Regions from separate parts of the Homo sapiens genome. Here region 1 is linked to region 2. Evidence: fine-mapped expression QTL. Tissue or cell type: whole blood. Region 2 holds a variant in brackets; the other region holds the start of a gene. All regions are shown on one strand. Distances are from middle to middle.

What was found. PIP is the estimated chance that this variant, and not a neighbour inherited with it, causes the effect.
Region 1: ARL2BP starts here. The variant in region 2 is fine-mapped to the expression of ARL2BP in whole blood (TOPMed, PIP above 0.99). The same link has a PIP of 0.9 or more in T cells.

The regions. Positions count from the first base shown.
Region 1 is chr16:57,242,128-57,250,127 of GRCh38, reverse strand. ARL2BP (ARF like GTPase 2 binding protein) reads right to left here and starts at 4,869. Exons shown (of 6, transcript NM_012106.4): 1 at 4,723-4,869; 2 at 3,987-4,048; 3 at 1,485-1,591; 4 at 276-361. The coding sequence starts at 4,760. It overlaps LOC124903697 (a long non-coding RNA gene), which reads left to right. Exons shown (of 2, transcript XR_007065082.1): 2 at 157-4,313. RefSeq lists silencers at 4,471-4,680, 4,771-5,150.
Region 2 is chr16:57,263,529-57,272,549 of GRCh38, reverse strand. All of the region lies in intron 1 of PLLP (plasmolipin), which reads left to right. Among named protein-coding and RNA genes, the nearest start is that of PLLP, 17 kb to the left of the region's middle. RefSeq lists an enhancer at 8,396-9,021. The variant G/T (reference allele first, on the strand shown) is at 5,795.

The sequences.
Region 1 (8,000 bases), 22 kb after region 2:
GGGTCGGGGCCTCACTATGTCACCCAGGCTGGTCTTGAACTCCTGGGCTCAAGTGATCCTCCTCCCTTGGCCTCCCAAAGCACTGAGAACACAAGCGTGAGCCAATGCCTGATCTTTTCAAGATTTCATTAAAAGGTTTGAGGGCTTCCTCCATAGGACCTAACCACCAACGGCATGCACAGGAAAACAAACAAGGAGCGTCTTTTGGTCAGCCTAGGGAAGGAAGAAAGTGAGAAAACAAAACAAAACACAAAAATCAGTCAAGCTCAACTCACTGTAATGTTGTGGTGAAGGCTGCCATGTTGAACTCAGGAATCCGCTGCAGCAGCTGTTCTTCAATGTATTTTTCTACCAAAGAAATCTGCAACAGTGGAAAGGATTTTGGTGAGACCATACTTTGGGAAAACAAGACTTCTTTTCAGAAAGCCTGCCCAGCCCTTTCTAAACATTTCCTGAGGTCTGTGTGCCACAATCTACACTGAGTGCCAAGGATACCAAAGAGGACCAAAACACAGCTCCTGTCCTGGAGAAGTACTCAGCCTGGTGTGGAAGAGAAGCCTTAGCTGATAATGGTGCTGTAACAGGGTGGATGCTCTGACACAGGTGGAGACAGTGAGTAGCACGGTACCCACACCCACAACCCAGTGCAGGATGCAGTAAGTGGGGGCTTTGCCTCCTGGGTAGAGGGCATCTGTGTAACAGAACATACGGACATGGAGGCAGTCACAGGTTCCTTCTGGGCAGGTTTGTTTATGCCATGCTTCTGTGTTAAGAAAATAAAGTCCTGGAGGCCAAAATGGATTCTTAGATGACAGAATCCCAGGGGGCTGTTAAGAGGCCTCAGGGTAAAGTGTAGAGACCCAAGGGTGACGAGCTGAGGTTCCTGGGTTCCAGTCTTGGTTTTTCCACCAAATAGTTAGTGATCTTGGTCTCAGTTTTCACTTTTACTTAATAGTCATGCATATATGACTGGATTATATAGAAGAAAGAAAGAGTATGTGAAAGCAGAAAGGTTTGTCAAAAGCATGCAAATGCAAGGTATGAAGAACTCATGTACTGTGATTAAAAGCAGGATTATGATAAGCCAAACGTCTTTTATTTATTATCTTTATTATTATCATTTTTTTTTTAGAGACAGAGATCTTGCTGTGTTGCCCAGGCTGGTCTCAAACTCCTAAGCTCAAGTGATTCTTCCACCTCAACCTCCCAAATAGCTGGCACTACAGGTGTGCTACCAAGCCCAGGTCAAACTTCTTTTAAATAAGAAGCTGATGAGTTAATCAAATATTTGCCTGAAAGCCTTTTGGAAAATAGCCCCAAAGGCTGTGCAGAGGAAAATGAACTTAAACCAGATGCTAATGAGGATTCCTGGAAGTGTACTGGTGGCATATTTTAAAAGGCAGCAAATTTCAATGTCTTTTGAATCTAAATTTAAATTTTTAAAAACTCTGACCTCCTGGTAGGAGACATAGAAATCTACTTACGTATTCATTAAAAATAGGTGTGTAGATGAGTTTATTCTCTTCTGTGTCTTCAAACTCCAGGTAGTACTTGTCCATGAAATTTCTCTGTAATAACTGGAACTCGTCATCTGAACCACAGTGGGGAAAATTTATTCTTTTTAATGGAGATTACCAACCATTATGATTTATAAGTAGGCAGGATCTATGTCAGCAGTACTGCTTTCTCAATGATCAGTCTCTGGAAGGAAAGCTGATGTTTTAAGGGGGTATTAAATGGGACCCTGATGTGGAAATAGCCCAATCCTCCTGTTTTCTTTTTCTTTCTTTCTTTTTTTTTTTTTTTTTTTTTTTTTGAGCTGGAGTTTCTCTTGTTGCCCAGGCTGGAGTGCAATGGTGCGATCTCGGTTCACTGCAACCTCCACCTCCAGGGTTCAAAAGATTCTACTGCCTTAGCCTCCTGAGTAGCTGGGATTACAGGTGTGTGCCACCTCGCCAGCCTAATTTTGTATTTTTAGTAGAGACAGGGTTTCATCATGTTGGCTAGGCTGATCTCGAACTCCCGACCTCAGGTGATCTGCCTGCCTCCGCCTCCCAAAGTGCTGGGATTACAGGTGTGAGCCACCGCACCCAGCCCTGTTTTCTTTTTAAATTGTGGTGAGATATACAATTTTTTTTTATCATTTTAATGTTTAAGCACACAGCTCAGTGGCTTTAAGTATGTTTACATTGTTGTGCAATGATCACCACCATCCTTCAGTCCATTTTAACCATATCCACACAGGGTGGCTTGGGAACTCCCTGACATTACTTTTCTGAAAAGGAATGAATTGGTTCTCTCTTATTTTGATATAACTTCCACAGCAGTTGTGGAAACAGTGTAGTGATTAAAATTATGGGGTCTGAAAGAGGCTAGCCCGTCTGGGTTCGAATCGCATCTCAGCTACTTACTAATTGTGTGACCTTGGGTAAGTTACTTAATTTCTCTAACCCCCATATAAACACATTTATCTGGAAAATAAGAATGGTTTATGGTAGTTATCATATAGGATTGGAAGTGGAATTTAGATGAGAATTCATGTAAATAGATTAGTTCATAGTGAACACTTAATAAATGATAGGGAATAGGGAATTTTTTTTTTTTAATTGAGACAGGGTTCTCCCTATGGTGCCTAGGCTGGTCTCGAACTCCTAGACTCAAGCAATCCACCTGCGCTGGCCTCCCAAAGTGTTGGGGTTATAGGTGTGAGCCACCGTACCCATCCCGGAATAAGGAATTTTAACAACTGAATAGATTATTTCTAAAAATAAAAGGAAAGTTTCAGAAAGGACCCAGACTTTGGGATAAATACCGTAGGCTCACAGAAGGCTCATTTTCCCATAGCATATAGGGTATAATAGGCAAGAGAACTGAATGGATTCTTCAGTATTCCCCAGAAATCCCCAAGTCCACATGGGAAACGAGCTTAATGATGAAACATCTATATTCAGGAGTTAAGGGCATGAACCTTTATACCTGAAGGTATAAAAACTTGGTCAGTAATTTTCATTCTAAATGGATTAAGCCATACAGCCAATAACACCAAATAACAGTGTTCTTTTCTCAATTCTCATAAAACTTAAAGTCAACAGAATTTTCTCAAATGTAAGTTTTCCCCTCCTACATACTTGTCTTAAACCTCTGGGGACTGTTACTGCTTCTCTGTTACTTAGCAGGTTTCATGGATGCCCAAATACATCCACAAGTAGGAACTCAAAACCTAGGAAAATACAGAACCAGCTGAAGCTTAATACCTTGTTTTCTTTATGGCCATGTGTGCTTATGGTTATGGTTTTATGTGTTTATTTTCATTTTTATTTTTTCCAGACGGAGTCTCGCTCTGTCGCCCAGGCTGGAGTGAAGTGGCACGATCTCGGATCACTGCAAGCTCCACCTCCCAGGTTCACGCCATTTTCCTGCCTCAGCCTCCTGAGTAGCTGGGACTACAGGCGCCCGCTACCACGCCCGGCTAATTTTTTTTGTATTTTTAGTAGAGACAGGGTTTCACCGTGTTAGCCAGGATGGTCTTGATCTCCTGACCTCGTGATCCGCCCACCTCGGCCTCCCAAAGTGCTGGGATTACAGGCGTTAGCCACCGCACCTGGCCTGGTTTTATGTGTTTTATGGCATGAAAATGTTAAAACTCAAAACTATCTAAAATTGAAATTGCTCTTACCCTACATAAGAAATAGAGTAGATCATTATTTCCTATAGTTTTGCGAAGAACGCCACACTGCTGGTGCCCTATTAGCCTGAGTCAGTCCCTTCCAGCCTCTGAATCTATGCTTATTAGATGTTTTCAGGAGTACTGGGCTGTTTGTTTCTAAGACAAACTGCAGTAAGCCTTTACTTAAGTATTACATTGTGCTACATTAAAAATTGCAGGCAGCTTGATGTTTTCTCTTTTTAAAATTAACTCTCCAAATTGATTTCAATGTCCTTAAAGAAACAAGCAAGTCCTTAAAAACAGTATCTTAAAAGCTTACCCATGATAATGTCCTCTAAATATCCAACCACAGCATCAAATTCTGCATCAGAGGCGGAGGAGCTGAAAAACATGCCTGGATTAGGTGCTATTTCAAATAATGCATTAAAAAAATGTTTTTAGTATGGACGTTTTCAAACATGCACAAGAGAAAAAAGAGTAGCAAAACGAACTTCCCATCACCCATCTTCAACGATTAAGAATGACTGACTGATCTAGTAAGTCCAAACAGAAGAAAACACACTCGGCACGTTTGTGACATGAACGTTCAATGTCATGACTCCACTTTAATAAAAACTTGTTCTCCAGGCTCTTAGCTATCACCCCATACCTGTCTGCTTGTGAGCATGAACCCGGCACGGGCGAAACACCTGCCGGGGGGGGTCATTTGGTCAGGAGTCCGGGAGGCGGGGGCCAGGGAGGGGTGGAGGGGCCTCGGGCGCTCAACCCCTCCAGGCTTTGCTGACAGCTGAGGGTTGGCGGCTGGGGATTGTGATGGAGGCGCTGATCAACGGTGACACCCGCCTCGCACTCCTGTCCTGCGGGGCCTGAAACCTGCAGCCTTAGTACTCTACAAAAGGAAGGCCTGGAGCTGGGACGGCGCCTTGGCGGCCCCCACCCTGCCCGGCCCGGCCCGGCCCGGCCCCTAAGGACACCTGTTTTATAGGGTCAGGCCCCGGGGCGAACGCCCGCTGCCTCCGGCCCCAAGTCGCCTGCGCCCTGGAGGAGCTACTCACAAAGACAGCGCAAAGCTCTCTCCTTCTAAGGCGTCCATCGCAGTCGCCCCGAGTAGGCTCCAACCCCGCCCGCGGCCCAACTCGCATGCAGGGCGCGGCCGCCCGGCGGGGTTAAGGCCTCTCAGCCAAGGCCGCGGCCAGCTCACTGCCAGGTCGGGTCAGCGCCTGCGCGCCAGGTCCGGCCTTGGATACCCTCTGCCGCCACGCGTCGGTCCGGCCTCTACGCCCGCCTGGCCCTCTGCGCGCGCCGCCGACGCCGCAGGTCCGGGCCTCGGTGACTGCCGGAGGGGCGCGGCGCCCCGCCTCCTGTCACCATGGCCACCGCAACCCCTTCCACCGCCTCACGGCCGGCCGGCATCCAATCACAGGCGAGCGTTACCGATGCCGGGGCGGGGCAAGACAGGGAGAGGAAGTCCCGGAAGGGAGTGCGGAGGGATGCGGCGCTTCGGCGAGCACCCGTTGTGTGGGAACTCCGTCTCAAGTCGCCCCCATTGTACGGATGAAGGAATCGAAGCCACGAGCCAGAATTTCCTCACTCGCAACTCGAGAATAAATTGCGCCTCCCTGAGTGTGGAGGATTAAATAAGTAGTTTAAGGCGTGTTTAAAGAGCGCTTGTAAGTTGCCAAGTCGCTGGAGAGCCAGTCCCTTATCCCTTGAACCAGGTGATGCTGACGTCTGATTTCAAGACAGTTCCTACCCCTCGTGGAAGGAAAGCCCCATCGCAAGAAGTCGATGTCCTGTAATTTACGTTATAATCTTCGCATCATAAAGATTACTCGGCAGTAATTGGTTTCTTGACTAATTATACAAGATGAGAATTGAAGAACTATTTTGAGCCACGCAATCAGGAATCAGATACCTTTCAGGAAAAGGCCTCTTCAAAACTGCCAAACTTTGAAAAAGGATTCGTTTGAGCTGATTTCTCTTGATTGGACAACTAAGCATTGTGTCTCTTTAGTTGCATGATACCTTATGGCCAAAGTGTGGTATATGACTAGAGGAACTAGAGGGGTTTAAGGTATGAACTGAGGGTCAGGTGGCCAGTCAGAATGGGTTAGCAGACATTTTTTATTTTTTTGAGACGGAGTCTTGCTCTGTCGCCCAGGCTGGAGGGCAGTGGCACGATCTCGGCTGGCTACAACTTCCGCCTCCCAGGTTCAAGCGATTCTCGTGCCTCAGCCTCCCGAGTAGCTAGGATTACAAGTACGTGCCACTATGCCCGGCTATTTTTGAATTTTTAGTAGAGACAGGGTTTCACCATGTTGGCCAGGCTGGTCTCGAACTCCTGACCTCAGATGATCCACCTACCTTGGCCTCCAAAAGGGCTAGGATTACAGGTGTGAGCCACCACAACCGGCCTAGCAGACATCTTTGAATGGACTTAAAATAGATATCCGTGGGATCTGAAACAAAGATGGTTACAAAGACACAGTCGGGTGTGACAGCTGTGACCAAGGTGACATAAATTATTACTAATTTATTTATTTATTGAGATGGAGTTTCGCTCTTACTGCCCGGGCTAGAGTGCAATGGTGCAATCTCGGCTCAACACAACCTCCGCCTACCGGTTTCAAGCGATTCTCCTGCCTCAGCCTCCCGCGTAGCTAGGATTACAGTCATGCGCCACCATGCCTAATTTTTTTGTGTTTTTAGTAGAGATGGGGTTTCTCTATGTTGGTCAGGCTGGTCTTGAACTCCCGACCTCAGGTGATCCGCCCGCCTTGGCCTCCCAAAGTGCTGGGATTACAGGCGTGAGCCACTGCGCTCGGCCTATTTATTTTTTGAGAGGGAGTCTTGCTCTGTTGCCCAGGCTGGAGTGCAGTGGCGCAATCTCGGCTCACTGCAATCTCTGCCTCCCGGGTTTAAGGGATTCTCCTGCCTCAGCCTCCTAAGTAGCTGGGATTACAGGCGCGTGCCACCACACCCGGCTAATTTTTGTATTTTTAGTAGAGACAGGGCTTCACCATGTTGGCCAGCGTGGTCTCGAACTCCTGACCTCTGGTGGTCTGCCCGCCTCGGCCTCCCAAAGTGTTGGGATTACAGGCGTGAGCCACCGCACCCGGTCAGGTGACATCAATTATGAGTTACTCTGTTTAGCACCAAGTGGAAGATAGGCATTTAAAAAGATTTGCTGAATTACTGGACTGAGTTGTTTAGTCAAGCCCTGGTCACACAGCTTACAGCAAACTCAGAGAGTTTCTTCATGACCTACTTTCTCTATATACCACACATTTCTGGACAAAATGAATTTGCCTACCCTTCCTAAGTCATTGATGGAGTGGAGGAGGAACACACCTTGATTTAATCTGTTCTGGTTATCTATTGCTGTTACAAACCACCTGAAAATTTAGTGGCTTAAAACCACCATTTTGCTCACTAATCTGTAATTTGGGCAGGGCCAGCTAGTCTCTATTCCAGTTGGTGTCGGCTGGGGGCAGCTGGAATGGACTAGAGGAGCTTCCTCCAAGGAGTTTACTCACATGGCTGGCAAATTAGTGTTGGCTCTTGGCTCTCAGTTGTGGACATTGGCCAGAGAACTGGGGCCGGGGTTTGGGGGGTTTCAGTTCCTCTCCATCTATAGGATTCAGGGGATTCTTGGGTTTTCTCACACCATGGTGCTGGGTCCAAGAGCAAGTGTTTCAAGACACTGAAATGTAAGCTGGCAGTCACTTAAAGACCTGGTACTGGAAACTGGCACAATAGCCCTTCCACTGTGTTCCACTGATCAAGCAGACCCAGAGCCACCCAAATTTAAGGAAAGTAGACATAAACCTCATTTCTTGACGGGAGGGATGTCAAATAATTTGTGGCCATCTTTTAATCCATTTCACCAACCTTACTGACTCTAGGAACAAATGGGGATAAAGATAAAAAGTACCCACTCAAGGATGTATCAGATAGTGTGCTAAACATTTATAAATACATTGTCTCCTTTTGAAATATTTGAGACCTTACAAAAACAAAAAACCGGTATGAGGTGGGTAGTATCTCCATTTTACAGACTGGGAAACCAAGCATTAGTGGGACCTGGGTCCAGTCCCACTCCAAAGGGCCTATTTCAACCATCATGCTATATAGCCCCTAATCCCTGGGTTGTTAAACCATATTCTTGGAAATCAGAACGTTTTCTCCTGAATACAGAATGGCCTTTTTCCACTTGTAGCAAAACTAAAAATTGACTTGAATACACTAAATGTTTTTCCATTAATACTCATTTTTAAAATCCTTTGATTGGGGGTTGGCACTAGGAATTCTTCTGAGTGAATAAATAGCAAAA
Region 2 (9,021 bases):
ACTTTAGCACCCCAATTCCTCCAGCAGGCCGAGGCCAGGGTGCACGGGACTGATGAGGCTCTATATACTTCCAACAGCAGCTGGTTCTTTCTCTGGAGGGGCCGATGGAAGGATGAGGTGGCCTTGGGGTGCTGAGACTATAAGCTTCTTGTTATCCCAGCTGCCTTGGGTTCGAGTTCTGCCACTGCCCCCTCTCAGCTCTGGCTTCAAGAGCAGTGATGCTCTCTTCAAATAAAGTAGTCTCCAGGGGAATGTCCCCACATCCTGGGTGACAGGGGAAGGGGAGCCTGGGCCACAGAACTATCCAGGTCCCAACCCTTACCAGGCATGACCTTGGTTCAGGTCCAGATCTTCCAAGAGCCTCGGTTTTCCTCATCAGTGGAATGGGTCAAGTGTTTCCCTTGAGAGGGTTGGGCCCAGAAGGAGGAAGGCCCTGGGGGTAAAGCCCTGGCGGGGGCCTGGCAGGGTAGTTGCGGGGGCAGGAGTTGGAGGGAATGAATGCAGGGCTCCACCTGGGACTTCACAAGGAGGGTAAGGCCTTCCTGGGAATGCTCTGTGTGGTTGGAGGGGCCTGGGTGCTGGGGAGGCTTGGGTAGGCTTTGTGGGGTAGGCCTAGGAGACCCTGGGAAGGAGGGAGGAAGCAGAGGAGGGGACTGGCAGGCAGGGAGCTCTGAGTTTCTGAGATCCCACCTGCGAGTGCTGCCACCTGCTCTGAGAGCCAGAGAGGGCCTTGGAGTGTCACTGAAGAGGCCCCTACCCGCCTTCACACACCTGGGGGCGGCCTGTGGAGGGAGGACCTGCTTGATCTGACCAGAGGGCAGGATGGGAACGGGGAGGGATTAAGTAGGGGTAGTTTCAGTTCAGGTTGGGAAGACTTTTCTTTTTTTTTTCTTTTTTTATTTTTGAGACAGAGTTTTGCTCTTATTGCCCAGGCTGGAGTGCAATGGTGCCATCTTGGCTCACTGTAACCTCTGCCTTCCAGGTTCAAGCAATTCTCTTGCCTCAGCCTCCCGAGTAGCTGGGATTACAGGTGCCCACCACCACGCCCAGCTAACTTTTTGTATTTTTATTAGAGGCGGGGTTTCACCATGTTGGCCAAGCTGGTCTGGAACGCCTGACCTCAGGTGATCCACCTGCCTTGACCTCCCAAAGTGCTGGAATTACAGGTGTGAGCCATCGTGCCCGGGTGGGAAGACTTTTCTAAAGCCCTAAGCGGGGACCTCACAGCAAGGATAAGGTGGTAGTGGCTCCTCACAGCAAGGATGAGGTGGTAGTGGCTCCTTGGCTGCAAGTACACGTGGGGGCTGCAGGACCTTGCTGGGGGTCCAGGGGCGGCTCAGCTCAGCCACTGGGGTAGGTGTGCTGCAACTTCTTCTGCGTTTGGCATTGAAATGCTCTCTGCTCTGAGACCCAGGACTCAGGAATAACAAGCGATACAATGAACGCCTTGGAGGAGGACCAGGTCTGAGCCCCCACCTCCAGCATCGTCCTCCTGCCATAGCCCCAGGAAGCAGGGTCCACGCGGGAGGTGGGGGTGGGGTGGCTGTGGCCTGGGGTGGCGACCCTCGCTGCCAAGCTCCCCACTGTGTTCCCAGGGCATAGAATAGCGCCTGGCACAGTTTGTTTAATGACTGAATGACTCCGTTTGGCAACTTACATGCCCATTTTTCCGACGAGAAAAGAGAGCTTAGGGCTATTCAGTACTGCCCAGGTCTAGTGGATCTGGGGCTGGGTTCCGAGTCTGCTGTCGCCTTCCTGGAGAGCGGGGATGACTCCAGGATCCTCGAATGCTGGAATGCATGGCATGGGAATTCCAAGGTGCCCTCCCTCTCACACAGTCAGGGGGTGGTGTGTGGCTGTGTCGTGGCCAGCTTAGGCGCCCGGAGCCTCTGTCCCCTGCCCCTTTGTCTCGTGTGATACAATGGGTGGCTTTTTGTCCCCATAAAGTCCCTTTCACTGTAGGGAGAAGGGCCAGAGCGGGGGTGGGGACCGAGCCTGGCCAGGCTGAGTTCTGAGTGTCCTTGGCTTGCCCAGATGTGTCCCCAGTGAGGGGGACCCCAGGAAGGGTTTGCTTTGCCATGCTGGGCGTGGTTTTCCTGGATGGAGCAGTGGGAATAGAGAGGCCGGAGCTGGGGAAGGACTCGGGGACCTGGGAAGCACTCAGGGGCCATGGATGGACTTGGGGGCAGGGGAAGGACTCGGGGGCTGTGGAAGGACTTGGGGGCTGTGGATGGACTCAGGGGCTGGGGAAGGACTCGGGGGCTGGAGATGGACTCGGGGGCTGGGGATGGACTCGGGGGCTGGGGAATGACTCAGGGGCCAGTAAAGGACTTGGGGGCTGGAAAAGGGGGTTGTGGATAGACTCGGGGACTGTGTTTGGACTCGGGGGCCATGGAAGGATTTGCTGCCTTGGCCCCTTTGGCCGTTACGTTGTTTCTAAAAACCTTTGGTTCAGTCACCCATGTTTAAAAAGCTGATTTTTGCCAGGTGCAGTGGCTCACGCCTGTAATGCCAGCACTGTGGGAGGCCAAGGCAGGTGGATCATCTGAGGTCAGGAGTTTGAGACCAGCCCGGGCAACATGGTGAAACCCTGTCTATACCAAAAATACAAAAATTAGCCGGGCATGGTGGTGGCACGCACCTGTAATCCCAGCTATTTGGGAGTCTGAGGCAGGAGAATGACTTGAACCCAGGAGGCAGAGGTTGCAGTGAGCCGAGATTGCGCCACTGCACTCCAGCCTGGGCAACAAAGCGAGACTCCATCAGATAAATAAATAAATAGCTGATTTCCATATAAAATCCAGACTTCTAGTGTCTCTTGAAAAATTAGAAACTTTGGTCACCCCAGGCCTGCATTCCCAGCAGCCACTCCAGAGACTCCCCGGCCCACTGTAGTCATTCCTGTGACCTGCCAGCCCTGGCAGCTGCTGAGCTTGAGCCCTGGTGTCCTCTAGGCCCCGGCTGCCTTCCTGCCTCGTGGCGTCCCTCTCTGGGATTTCCCTCCCCCAGCCCCGGACTGTCTCATAGCCTTCACGACTGCTCACGACTGCTATGGCTTTTAATGTTTTCTTTCACATGGTTTCATCTCCATGACACACCTGTGAGGTGAGCAGGTGTCCCCCTAGGGTCCCTGTACCCCAATTTCCTCACTTGCCAGATGAGGAAACAGACCAGAAAGGTTGGGTGACTCCCCCAAGGCCACACAGTGAGCCCACAAAGGTCTGATGCTGCCCCGGAAGTGAGGAGGGTGAAAAGAGTTGGGGTGACCATCTTTGCATGACAGCTCAGAGTCCATAGGGTTGGTCAAACCCCTCCCTTTGGGGCCCCTGGAGGAGGCCCATGTTCAGGAGTGTTGACCTCTGCGGGAAATCTCAGAGAACAGCAAGCCAAACCTCCCTGCTTCCATTGTGCCAGGGGGTGAAGGGGTCTGCCCAAGGCCCCTCAGCCTATGAGGAGCTGAGGGAGTGCAGCTCCAAGGGAGATCTGAGGGCTGGGCTGGATTTCTGGGGCCTCCTGTGGGAGCACCACCGCCTTATCTGTCAGGTGGGTGGGGCTGGCACTGACGTGGGTCCTTATCTCTGCCTGGGCTGTGCCTGGTGCTTGAATGTGGATACTGTCATTCTCTCAGTGAGGCCTCACCCTCCTGAGGAGCCTCACACACCGTGGCGAATGCAGGAAAGTAGGCCCAGGGCCTGACTTGAAAACCCATGTTCTTAACCCCTCAGGGTGATCATGACACCTGGCCATGTTGAATATTAAGCCTATGCTGGTTGCTGGTCTAAGTTCCTTGCTCAAAACTACCCTAGGGCCCAGGCAGGAGGATCAGTTAAGCCTAGGAGTTCTAGACTAGCCTGGGCAACATGGGGAGACCCCACCTCTACAAAAATTAAAAATAGCTAGGAGTGGTGGTGCATGTCTGTAGTCCCAGCTACTTGGGAGGCTGAGGTGGGAGGATCACTTGAGCCCAGGAGTTCGAGGCTGCAGTGAGCTGCAATAGTGCCATTGCACTCCAGCCTGGGTGACAAAGTGAGACCCTGTCTCAAAAACAAAACAAAACAAAACCACCCTAGGGGGTAGATACATTTCAAAGATGAAGGAAGATGAAGACAAGGGCACAGAGAGGCTAAGCCACTTGCCTGAGGTCACACAGCTAGTTAAGTTGGCAGGGCCAGAGCGTGAATTCAAGGAGTCGATAGGCCACCCCTCCAACAGAACCAATGCCAGTGTCACTCAGGTGAACAAGGTCATGACACCCATCCACAGATTCAGAGAGCAGCTGAGAAAAACCTATTCATTTCCTGGGGCTGCCGTAACAAAGTTCCACAAACTGGGTGGCAGAAATATATTGTCTCAGTTACTGAAATCAAAGTGTTGGCAGGGTTGCTTTCTTCTGGGGCTCTGAGGGAGAGTCTGTCCCATGTCCCCCTCCTGGCTTCTGGTGGTGACCAGCAAGCCTTGGTGTGCCTTGGCTTACAAATGCATCACTCTCGTCTCTGCCTCTGTCTTCACACGATGGTCTCCCCTTGTGGTCTCTGTGTCCACATTTCTCTTGCAAGGACACCAGTCATTGGATTAGAGATGCCCCCAATCCAGTATAACCCCCCTTAACTCGAGCATGTCTGCAAACACTATTTTCTTTTCTTTTCTTTCTTTCTTTCTTTTTTTTTTTTTTTTGAGACGGAGTTTCGCTCTTGTTGCCCAGGCTGGAGTGCAGTGGTGCGATCTCGGCTCACTGCAACCTCTGTCTCCTAGGTTCAAGCGATTCTCCTGCCTCTCCCAAGTAGCTGGGATTACAGGCACATGCCACCATGCCTGGCTAATTTTTTGTATTTTTAGTAGAGGCAGGGTTTCACCACGTTGGCCAGGCTGGTCTTGAACTCCTGACCTTAGGTGATCCACCTGCCTCAGCCTCCCAAAGTGCTGGGATTACAGGTATGATCCACCATGCCAGGCCTTGTTTTGTTTTGTTTTGTTTTGTTTCTGAGACAGAGTCCCACTCTGTCCCCCAGGCTGGAGTGCAGTGGTGCAATCTCAGTTCACTGCAACCTCTGCCTCCTGAGTTCAAAGTGATTCTTCTGCCTCAGCTTCCTGAGTAGCTGGGACTACAGACACCCACCACCATGCCCGGCTAATTTTTGTATTTTTACTGGAGATGGGTTTCTCCATATTGGCCAAGCTGGTCTTAAACTCCTGTCCTTAACTGATCATGCACCTCAGGCTCCCAAAGTGCTGGGAATACAGGTATGAGCCACTGCGCCTGGCCAGAGCCTGTTTTCAAATAAGGCCACATTCCCAGGTACTAGGGGTTAGAACTTGAACATATTTTGGGGAACACATTGCAAACCACAATAAGAGATGAGGAAAAACTTCCCTCAGAGTCAGTGAAGGGCATGCACCCTGCAGGAACCTGGCCTGTCTGGCTGTCAGTGTTGGCAGCTTCTGGGGAAACTGTAATAACAGGGTTTCACTGCAGCAAGGAGTGCCTCTTGGTTGGGCATTTGTGACGAATCTTCTCTCTGATGCCACAGGTGGTTTTAACAAAAACATCTCTTCGTTACCCAATTGTTTGGAAATTCTTTGAAGATGCAAAGGTCGTTTTTGACACTGTAGTCTTCATATGTAAAAAAAAGTTCCTAATCCAAATTATTCAGGTTTTCAGAAAAGCAAAAAAAAAAAAAAAAAAAAAGGCCCTGTGCCCTTGAGATTTCCAGACAGTTCCCTTTGTTTATCTGCAGGACCTGTCTGGGGAGGCATGGCAGGGACCTCAGAGAGCTGGGAAGGAGGGGAGGATGTG[G/T]TTTGCCTGTGTGTGTAGGAGAGAGACAGTTAGATATTCATGTAGACACCTCCAGAGAAACACGGGGACAGACGAACATGTAAGCAAGAGAGACCTGCAGGGCCCAGGGGTGAAGGCATAGAGTTCTGTTCTCAGATACCCACGTGGCACCCTCCCTGCCCCTCCCTCACCTCCCTGGGTCTTTGCTTATCATCACCTTGCCAGTGAGATCTTTCTTGGCCCCTTCTCCATAGACATTTGTTAAATATATTAACCCAGAGAGATGCCCACAGCGAGGCCTGTGTTGGGTGCCCTGTTCCGAGCAGGGTCTCTCTTGGGGGACTGGGCTGGGGGCTCAGGAACCAGGAGAAACCAGTCTGTCTGGTTCAAATGCAGGAACGAACCTTCCTTGTTCTAGGGCAGAAACCGAGGCAGCTCCGCAGGCACAGAGCCAGGCAGCACAGCCAGAAAGAACGCCAGAAATTCCCAGTCCTTATCCACCGGCTTCATCTGGACGCTGTGTTCGCTGATCTGGAAACCAGGGGTGGGGCTGGAGCACAGCACAGGGCGGGGCAGGGATGGCGGCGGGCAGTGGGGGGAGCCTGGGTGCCCAGCCCAGACTGGCTCCTAGAGCCAGCTGAAGTGTCCTCATTTTTTACACTTCACTAAATAACTCATAGTAGCGCAGGTTCCAAGGAAGCACGGATCTGGGTTCCTGTCCTTCCCTATCCTTTTAAAATTTTTATTTATTTTTTGAGACAGGGTCTCTGTCACCTAGGCTGGAGTGCAGTGGCGCCATCATGACTCACTGCAGCCTTGACTTCCCAGGCTCCATTGATCCTCCACCTCAGCTTCCCAAGTATCTGCGACCACAGGCACATGCTACTATGCCCAGCTAAATGTTATATTTTTGGTAGAGATGGGGTTTTCCATATTGTCCAGGCTGGTTTCGAACTCCTGAGCTCAAGTGATCCACCTGCCTCAGCCTCCCAAAGTGCTGGGATTACAGGTGTGAGCCACTGCACCCGGCCTCCTGCCCTGTCCTTTACCCACAGTGACCTCAGGCACATTGCCTCCTGAGATTCCCTTTGGAAGATGGGAATAACAGATAGAACATTTGAGGAGGGTCTGGTGATGGAGGAATCAATGAGATGTGTCTGGCACAGAGCGAGAAGGCATTGAGTGGTTATTGTGACCTAGGCTGTGAGTCATGGGACAGGTGATTGATAGGCATATGATAGTGGAAACCTGAATTGGTCTTTTCTTGATTTTTGGTTCATTGCATTTTCTGACTTTCCTTTAGTTAGTTGGAAGCTGGCAACACAGTGGCAGCGGAGGCCCATGAGGAATTGGCTTTAAATGAAAAAATAATTGTTTATCTTGGACGCACCCAGTTCTCACCTGGAGAAGGGACGGAGGCGTGCTGCCCGAAGTGTTTGTTCTCCTTCAGAACACTGGCCTCCCCCCAGCTCTGGGGGTTCGTGGCCTCTCCAGGTGTGTCTGTTTCTGGCAGGGTGTTGTTCTGAGACATCCTGCCCTGGGTCCACACTCGTAAGGGCTCTGCCCCCAGCTTGGTGTGTGACAGCGGGCAAGGCCCTGTGGCTCCGCCCTGGCTTCCTCACCTGCCTACCCTCACCTGGCCTGCTTGCGGCGGTGAGAGTGCTGACGGGCAGCAGAGGCTGGCAGGGTGCTGTGTGTTGGGGGGTGGATCCCTGGAGCTTCACCCCAGTGTGGGGAGGAGCAGGTGCTGAGCCCTGGAGAGCGGGACACCTTCCCTGGGCCTCCCACTTTGGGCTGAGCCCCTTACTTGGGTTGGGGGGAGGCAAGGCCAGGGGCAGTTCACAGATGGACACCTGCTTCTTATTAATTTATTTTGTTAATTTAATTTTAACTTTACTTAATTTTAATTTTATTTATTTTCGTTTATTTTGAGACAGGGTCTTGCTGTTGCTCAGGCTGGAGTACAGTGGCACAGTCATGGCTCACTGTAGCCTCAACCTCCCAGGTTCAAGCGATCCTCCCCACTCAGCCTCCCAAGTAGCTGGGACCACAGGTGCACCATCACCACACTCGGCTAATTTTTAAAGTATTTGGCAGAGATGGGCTCCCTGTATATTGCCCAGGATGGGGTCTTGAACGCCTGGGCTCAGGCAATCCTCCCACCTTGGCCTCCCCAAATGCTAGGATTACAGGCATAAGCCACCACGCCCAGCCCCACTGCTTCCTCTTTTAATACACGGTGCCTGTGCAGGGCAGGGTTCTGGTCTCTGTCATGGTTGAAGAAATAGGATTGTTAGTTCCTAAGCACATTGTGTATTTAGCGTATATTATGTGTCGGGCACTGTTGGGCACTGAAGATACAGCAGTGAACAAAACCCAGAATCTTCCTCGGAGAGCAGGGAAGGTACTCGGTCAGCATCACACAGCCACACAGCTTTTGACTTCCAAGCTCGAGGCCCCACCTGCCACTTCCCCACTGGGCCATACCCTTCCCAAGCCAGATCCCTGGGGGATGGGGAGTAGGCCGAGGAAGGAGGGTTGTGAGGGCTGAGGGCTCCCTGGGCCAGCTCAGCTACAGGCCCCCGAGTCTTGTCCCTGGCTTCTGTAGGGATCCACACAGGAGCTTCCCTTCTGGTCCTCGACGAGGTTGCTTTTGGATGGGGTGCCTGGCAGGCACCCCAGCTCTGTCTGTGCTCTAGGCCCAGGCCCTCAGGTGCTCTAGGGGCTGGCGGCAGCCCCTCAGCTGCTGGGAGCAGCCAGGACTTTCTGTCTCCAAACCCTAGCAGCCAGAGGCAGGTCCTGCTCCGGAGCCGCTTCTCTGATCCCACTGACTTGTCCTTGGGCTGGTGGCAAGGTCACTACGCAGCCTTGGTGCCATGTACCTGGGCGCTGACCAGGGGAAAAAGAGGACACCTCTGTGTGTCTTGATTGGCAATGGAGCCTTTCTCCAAAGCTAGACCCTCGTGTCCTCTCCGTGGCCAGGGATTCCAGAGAGTGCCCTCGTGGAGAAGGCGCTCTCCAGAGCATCTCCACCAGCAAGGGGTGGGTGGGGGTAGGAGGGGCTGGGGAGGCCCAGGATGGCCACATCCGAGGTGCCTCTGGGGGCCTCCACGAGCTCCCTGGGCCCTGCCTCAGCTGGCCCTTTGCTGGCCTGCACCCTGAGACAGTCTGCATAGTGAGTCGACAAACCTGCCGCAGAGAATTCTCTGTGGCTGTGAGGGCTGGGGCCTGTGCAGTCCAGTTCGGGC